Linked DNA regions of Homo sapiens: region 1 is linked to region 2. Evidence: fine-mapped expression QTL. A gene starts in region 2. The other region holds a variant in brackets. All regions are shown on one strand. Distances are between the middles of the regions. Region 1 overlaps TPD52L2 (TPD52 like 2). Region 2 holds the start of TPD52L2 (TPD52 like 2).

Evidence for each region. PIP is the estimated chance that this variant, and not a neighbour inherited with it, causes the effect.
Region 1: its variant is fine-mapped to the expression of TPD52L2 in whole blood (INTERVAL, PIP above 0.99). The same link has a PIP of 0.9 or more in sun-exposed skin.

Annotation. Positions count from the first base shown.
Region 1 is chr20:63,888,045-63,890,943 of GRCh38, forward strand. It overlaps TPD52L2 (TPD52 like 2), which reads left to right. Exons shown (of 7, transcript NM_003288.4): 6 at 1,146-1,194; 7 at 1,806-2,899. The coding sequence ends at 1,901. Among named protein-coding and RNA genes, the nearest start is that of DNAJC5, 5.6 kb to the right of the region's middle. The variant C/T (reference allele first, on the strand shown) is at 1,645.
Region 2 is chr20:63,863,965-63,866,863 of GRCh38, forward strand. TPD52L2 (TPD52 like 2) reads left to right here and starts at 1,306. Exons shown (of 7, transcript NM_003288.4): 1 at 1,306-1,420. The coding sequence starts at 1,402. It overlaps ABHD16B-AS1 (ABHD16B antisense RNA 1), which reads right to left and starts at 1,109. Exons shown (of 2, transcript NR_165314.1): 1 at 860-1,109; 2 at 1-306. RefSeq lists enhancers at 34-263, 357-1,556, 596-1,316, 2,038-2,757 and a silencer at 724-773.

The DNA.
Region 1 (2,899 bases), 24 kb after region 2:
TGCCTGTGCCGTGAGGCACTGCCCTGATTCTCAGGAGAGCCCAGAACTGTGGTCCCTATTCTGTGCCTGCGCCGTCAGGCACCGCCCTGATTCTCAGGAGAGCCCTGTTCTCCTTGTGGGGACTCTGGCTGGGTGTCGCAGACGTGCTGGCCTCTAGAGTCCCCGGGCCTGGGAGGGGTATCTGTTTGTGTGGGAGGGACTGAGTGGGATGGAGCTGGCCTGCTTTCTCCTCTTGTCTCCTTATCACTCTGCTGTCCCAGAAGTGTCCTTGGTCTTCCGTTTGCTTCTCTGAGAGATGTGCATGAAGAACTGCACAGACTTTTCATAACTTCAGTACGAGAGCCCAGGGTGTCCCTGTAGGGGACAGCAGAGAGGGGCCGACAGCCCCCCAACTGCGCAGACTTTTCATAACCTCAGTACGAGAGCCCAGGGTGTCCCTGTAGGGGATAGCAGAGAGGGGCCGACAGCCCCCCAACTGCACAGACTTTTCATAACCTCAATACGAGAGCCCGGGGTATCCCTGTAGGGGACAGCAGAGAGGGGCCGACAGCCCCCCAACTGCGCAGACTTTTCATAACCTCAGTACGAGAGCCCAGGGTGTCCCTGTAGGGGATAGCAGAGAGGGGCCGACAGCCCCCCAACTGCACAGACTTTTCATAACCTCAGTACGAGAGCCCGGGGTATCCCTGTAGGGGACAGCAGAGAGGGGCCGACAGCCCCCCAACTGCGCAGACTTTTCATAACCTCAGTACGAGAGCCCGGGGTGTCCCTGTAGGGGACAGCAGAGAGGGGCCGACAGCCCCCCAACTGCACAGACTTTTCATAACCTCAGTACGAGAGCCCGGGATGTCCCTGTAGGGTATGACAGAGAGGGGCCGACATCTCCCCAGCTGCACAGTCAAGGGGTTTCCAGTTGCCTTGTGTGACGTCTGGACCTGTCCCTGTGGTTGTTGGGCATGGCCGACCTCACTTTTGACCTGGGGAGTCTCCGGAATGACCTGGCTGTCTCACAGTTTTGCCATGAGATCTTGGGATGTTGTTAGGGACCCTTTGGAGGCTGGCCCTAACCCTGAGGCCCTTCCGAGTTAGGAGAGCAGCACAACCCTCTCCTCTTGACACCGACACTCTTCCCTCTCTCTTTAAAGGAACTCTGCGACCTTCAAGTCGTTTGAGGACCGAGTTGGGACCATAAAGGTAATTGTACCTGGACTGTTTGATGGTCTTGGCAAGGTGTGACCTGTTACAGCAACTTGTTTATTATTAGTCATTTAGTTATGGTAGACTCACATACAGTTGTGGGAAGTAATGCAGAGAGGTTCCTTGTGCCTTTTACACAGTTCTCTCCTGTGACGACATCTTGGAAAATCCTGTAGTGCAGCCTCCCCACCAGGACATTGGCACTGACTCAGGACACAGAACGCCTCCACACTGCCCTTCCTGGTCCCCACTGCCCTTCCTGGTCCCCACTGCCCTTCCTGGTACCTTCTTGGCCATGCTGACCTTCCTCCCGCCCTACCCCCGGCAACCCCTAGTCCACTCTCCCTTTGTATAATTGTGTCATTTCAAGAATGTCACGTAAATGGAACGATACAGTGTGCAGCTTTTTGGCATTCACTGTCTTCATTTGGCATCGTTCTCTGGAGA[C/T]CTGTTGGGGCTGGTGCCCGTCCGTGATTTGCTCCCTGTCCCTGCTGAGCAGTGTTCGTGTTACATAAGCTTTTGTAGAGCATTGAGCATGGGCCTGGGATCTGCCTTGTGTTGTGTGCTCTGTCTCAGGTTTTTCTGTCTTCATCTTTTCTCTCCTGTAGTCTAAGGTTGTGGGTGACAGAGAGAACGGCAGTGACAACCTCCCTTCCTCAGCGGGGAGTGGTGACAAGCCCCTGTCGGATCCCGCACCTTTCTAAGCCTGTGGTTGCTTCACCCGCTGCAGAGCACACGCAACCCAGCCTCAGCATCACAGCCGCAGCTCTGTTCAGCGGAGCAGCCAGCCAGGGCGGATGAGCAGAGCCGGCCCTGAGGACAGTCCTGCCCATCCACGCGGAGATGTGGCTGCCGCGTTTGCATGAATTTGAAGAACACAGGCTTGTACACAGATGTTTTACACTCACGTTTGTAGATGAAACAGATCACTGTGCTGTCCTTCCTAGGGGTGCAGGAAGTGGACAGGGCGGAGGGTTTGAAAGAATATTGAGCCAAAGCCCAGGCTCCCTTTGGGAATCATGTTAGCCCATCAGAATGTTGAAGGATTGAAGAGTTCTAAGCATAAAATAAGTGGCATTTTCTGACTTCTTCCTCCTCCTCCTTCCCTGACTCACAGAAGGAATGCAATCACCCAGCAAGTCCTACCTGTTACGCAATTTTTTATCTCAAAATGCCGAACGAGAAAACTGTCCATTTTCTGAGACCCCCAGAAAGGAAACTGACCCTCAGCAGCTGCCTGATTGTTACGCGAATCTAGCTTTAACGGAAGCAAATTCATTATTTTTTAAATGCAGTGGACTTTTCAAAAAGTTTAAATTAGGCAAAGCAGCTTTAGCCTCATAGAATATTATTTCTTTGGACTCAAGCTGAAATACAAGCCTTACATTGCCTTATGCTTTATTTCTTTCTAATTTTTATATGTATATAGATGAGGGTTCCTTAATGGTTGTGAGCATTGTGTGGAATTTTACACCTGGCCTGCGTGGCAGCCTCTTCCAGTTGAGGTGTTTTATGTCACGCACACTCCATCCCAGTGTACAAAACCTGCTTCTCTTCTCAACCGTGGCAGCTCCCGCTGGCTCCTATGCCCTGCCCTAAAGGGCTCTTGAGCCTCTGGGAATGGGAGGGGCCAAGAGAAGGAAAACCCTGTCTTTAGCACCCTTTAAAAGAACTGTGCCCCCCTTCTCAGTGCTGCCTTTGC
Region 2 (2,899 bases):
CGGGTGAAGGAAGGGGCAGTGGGAGGAGCTTCCATGCCTAGGGACCAGTACCACCCCAGGCTGGAAGCCCAGAGTGGAGTCCTAGGACATCAGATCCTAAAGGGCTTGAATACCGTTTAAGGCTTTTCTTCCGGGAGCAAGTAGGAGCCAAAGAAGGGAAGTTGCGGGACTTGTTTTCGTGGGGCCAGTTGCCTGGTGGTTACGCGCCTCTCCTCTGAAGTCAGGCATCCTGTTCCAGAGTATCCTGGTTGCGCTTCAACTTGCGGAGTGACCTGGGGCAAGTGACTTTAACCTCAGCTTCCTCATCTGTGGAGTGGGGAGGGCGCAGCGCTGGTCGCCCTGAACAGGAAGTGAGACAACCTCGGGGTGCACACGCGCAGGCCCGAGCCGCAGGGTCCACGCCCGAGGCGAGGCGGCAGCGGCGCCTGCAGGGCGAGGGGACGAATCGCGATCTTTTTCAGAGTAACCCGCGTACAATAAAAAGTCCCCATGAAAAGGACAAACTAGCCAGGCGTGAGGGGCGGTGGCTCACGCCTGTAATCCCAGCACTTTAGGAGGCCGAGGCGGGTGGATCACCTAAGGTCAGGAGTTCTAGACCAGCCTGGCCAAGGTGGCGAAACCCCCGTCTCTACTACAAATACGAAAATTAGCCGGACGTGTTGGCGCGCGCCTGTAATTCCAGCTACTCGGGAGGCTGAGGCTGGAGAATCGCTTGAACCCGGAGGGCAGAGATTGGAGTGAGCTGAGATCGCGCCATGGCACTCCAGCCTGGGCAACAAGAGTGAAACTCCGTCTCAAAAACAAACAAAAAAGGACCAACTAAAAAAAGAATATAAATACAATAAATAACAGGACTTACGGGGGCAGGCTGACCCCTAAAGTAAGGGGTCGGGCTGGAAAGGATCTCAAGGGGTCAGAGTTTGAGCCGCCGAGGCGCGCGAGCCCCAGCACTCCTAGGCAGCTGCATCCGCCCCGGAAGATCCCCTGGGGCCCTGCGCTGGCTTTCCACAGCGCCATGTTGGACGGTCCTCCCACTTCCCACCTTCCCAGTCCTCCCGCTACTCTGACCGTTCTACCTGTGATTCTCGCTGGTGGAGTCAACCTGGAATGGATTCCCGCCGAACCACGCCTCCCTTTCCTGGTTCGCCCGCAGTTTCGGCCTATCAGGTTGAGTCGGGTAAACCAGGACGGGCCAAGCGGCACTCTCATTGGATATCACTGGTGGGGGCGGGAAGAAGGCGGAGCACGTGCCCGGGCGGAAGTAGCCGTCGCATCGCGGATTACGAAACGCCGCGGAGCTGAGGCAGTTCCGCTGGCTAGTGTGTACGCGGCGAGCTTCTCCCGGCGCCGCCCGCTCGGCTCCCATAGCGCCCGCGACAGCGGTCCGGACGCCGCCCGAACATGGACTCCGCCGGCCAAGGTACCTGCCGGGCCCGGCCCCTTCGCCGCAGATGGGCCCAGGCTGCCCGTTGTTCTCCGTCTCCCGGGGTCGCGTCTGCGACTCTCTGTCCTCTCGGTCTCGGTTCACCCACCCCGCGGCCCCTCTTCAGCTCCCGGGGCCACTGACCTCGAAGCTTATGATGGTCGTGGTGTGTTTTTTGCCCGCGGCCCAGACCGCTTCCTGGGCTCTCTCCAGCCGCCCTCCTGGTCTCCCCTGGGACCGTTCCGAGGTGTGGTTCCCTGGCGCCCGCCGTTGCTCCCGTAGTTTGGGTTCTGTCGCTCCCAGCAGGTCTCGCTTATGCCGCCCACCCCGTGCCCTGCTCTTGCTTGCTCTGCCACCCCCCGGTCCCTGCGCGGGGCCCTCGGGTTCACGCTGTCTGGCCCTGGACCCAGTCCGAGGTGTTGAGGGCGGCTCCCGAGCAGAGAAGGGGTCTTCGCGTTCAGCAGAGCTCCCCTTGGGCAGCAACTCTGCTCGGAGCTCAGCCTGCTTAGGGGTTGCCTCATGGAGAGGGGGTGGAGTGAGTCAGGGGCACACCCAGCATACCAGGCCTGTTTCCAGAACAGTCTCCCCAGAGCAGTATGAGATGGCCACTGAGGGGCGTGGAGCGAGCCCAGGAGATTAAAATCTTGAGAAGATGATAAAAGTCTGCCTTGCATTTTGGGGCTCTAGAGAGGGATGCTAAATTTCTTTCTTTCTTTCTTTCTTTCTTTATTTTTTTGAGACGGAGTCTTGCTCTGACGCCAGGCTGGAGTGCAGTGGCGCGATCTCAGCTCATTGCAACCTCGACCTCCCGGGTTCAAGCGATTCTGCTGCCTCAGCCTCCTGAGTAGCTGGGACTACAGGCACGCGCCACCAGGCCCAGCTAATTTTTGTATTTTTAGTAGAGGCAGGGTTTCACCATGTTGCCCAGGATGGTCTCGATCTCTTGACCTTGTGATCCGCCCGCCTCAGCCTCCCAAAGTGCTGGGATTACAGGCGTGAGCCACTGTGCCCGGCTACATATTAAGCTTTATAATTCCTAGGTGCTGCATTATTCTGGAGGGTGTTTTTTGTTTGTTTGTTTTTGTTTTTTTGAGATGGAGTCTCACTCTGTCGCCCAGGCTGGAGCGCAGTGGCTAGATCTCGGCTCACTGCAAGCTCCGCCTCCCGGGTTCACTGCCATTCTCCTGCTTCAGCCTCCCAACTAGCTGGGACTACAGGCGCCCGCCATCATGCCCGGCTAATTTTTTGTATCTTTAGTAGAGACGGGGTTTCACTGTTAGCCATGACGGTCTTGATACCCTGACCTCGTGATCTGCTTACCTCGGCCTCCCAAAGTGCTGGGATTACAGGCGTGAGCCACCGCGCCTGGCCTTTTTTTTTTTTTTTTTTAATTTTTTTTTTGGGGACAGCGTCTCCCTCTGTCTCCCAGGCTGGAGTGCAGTGGTGCAATCATAGCTTACTGCAATCTTCAACTCC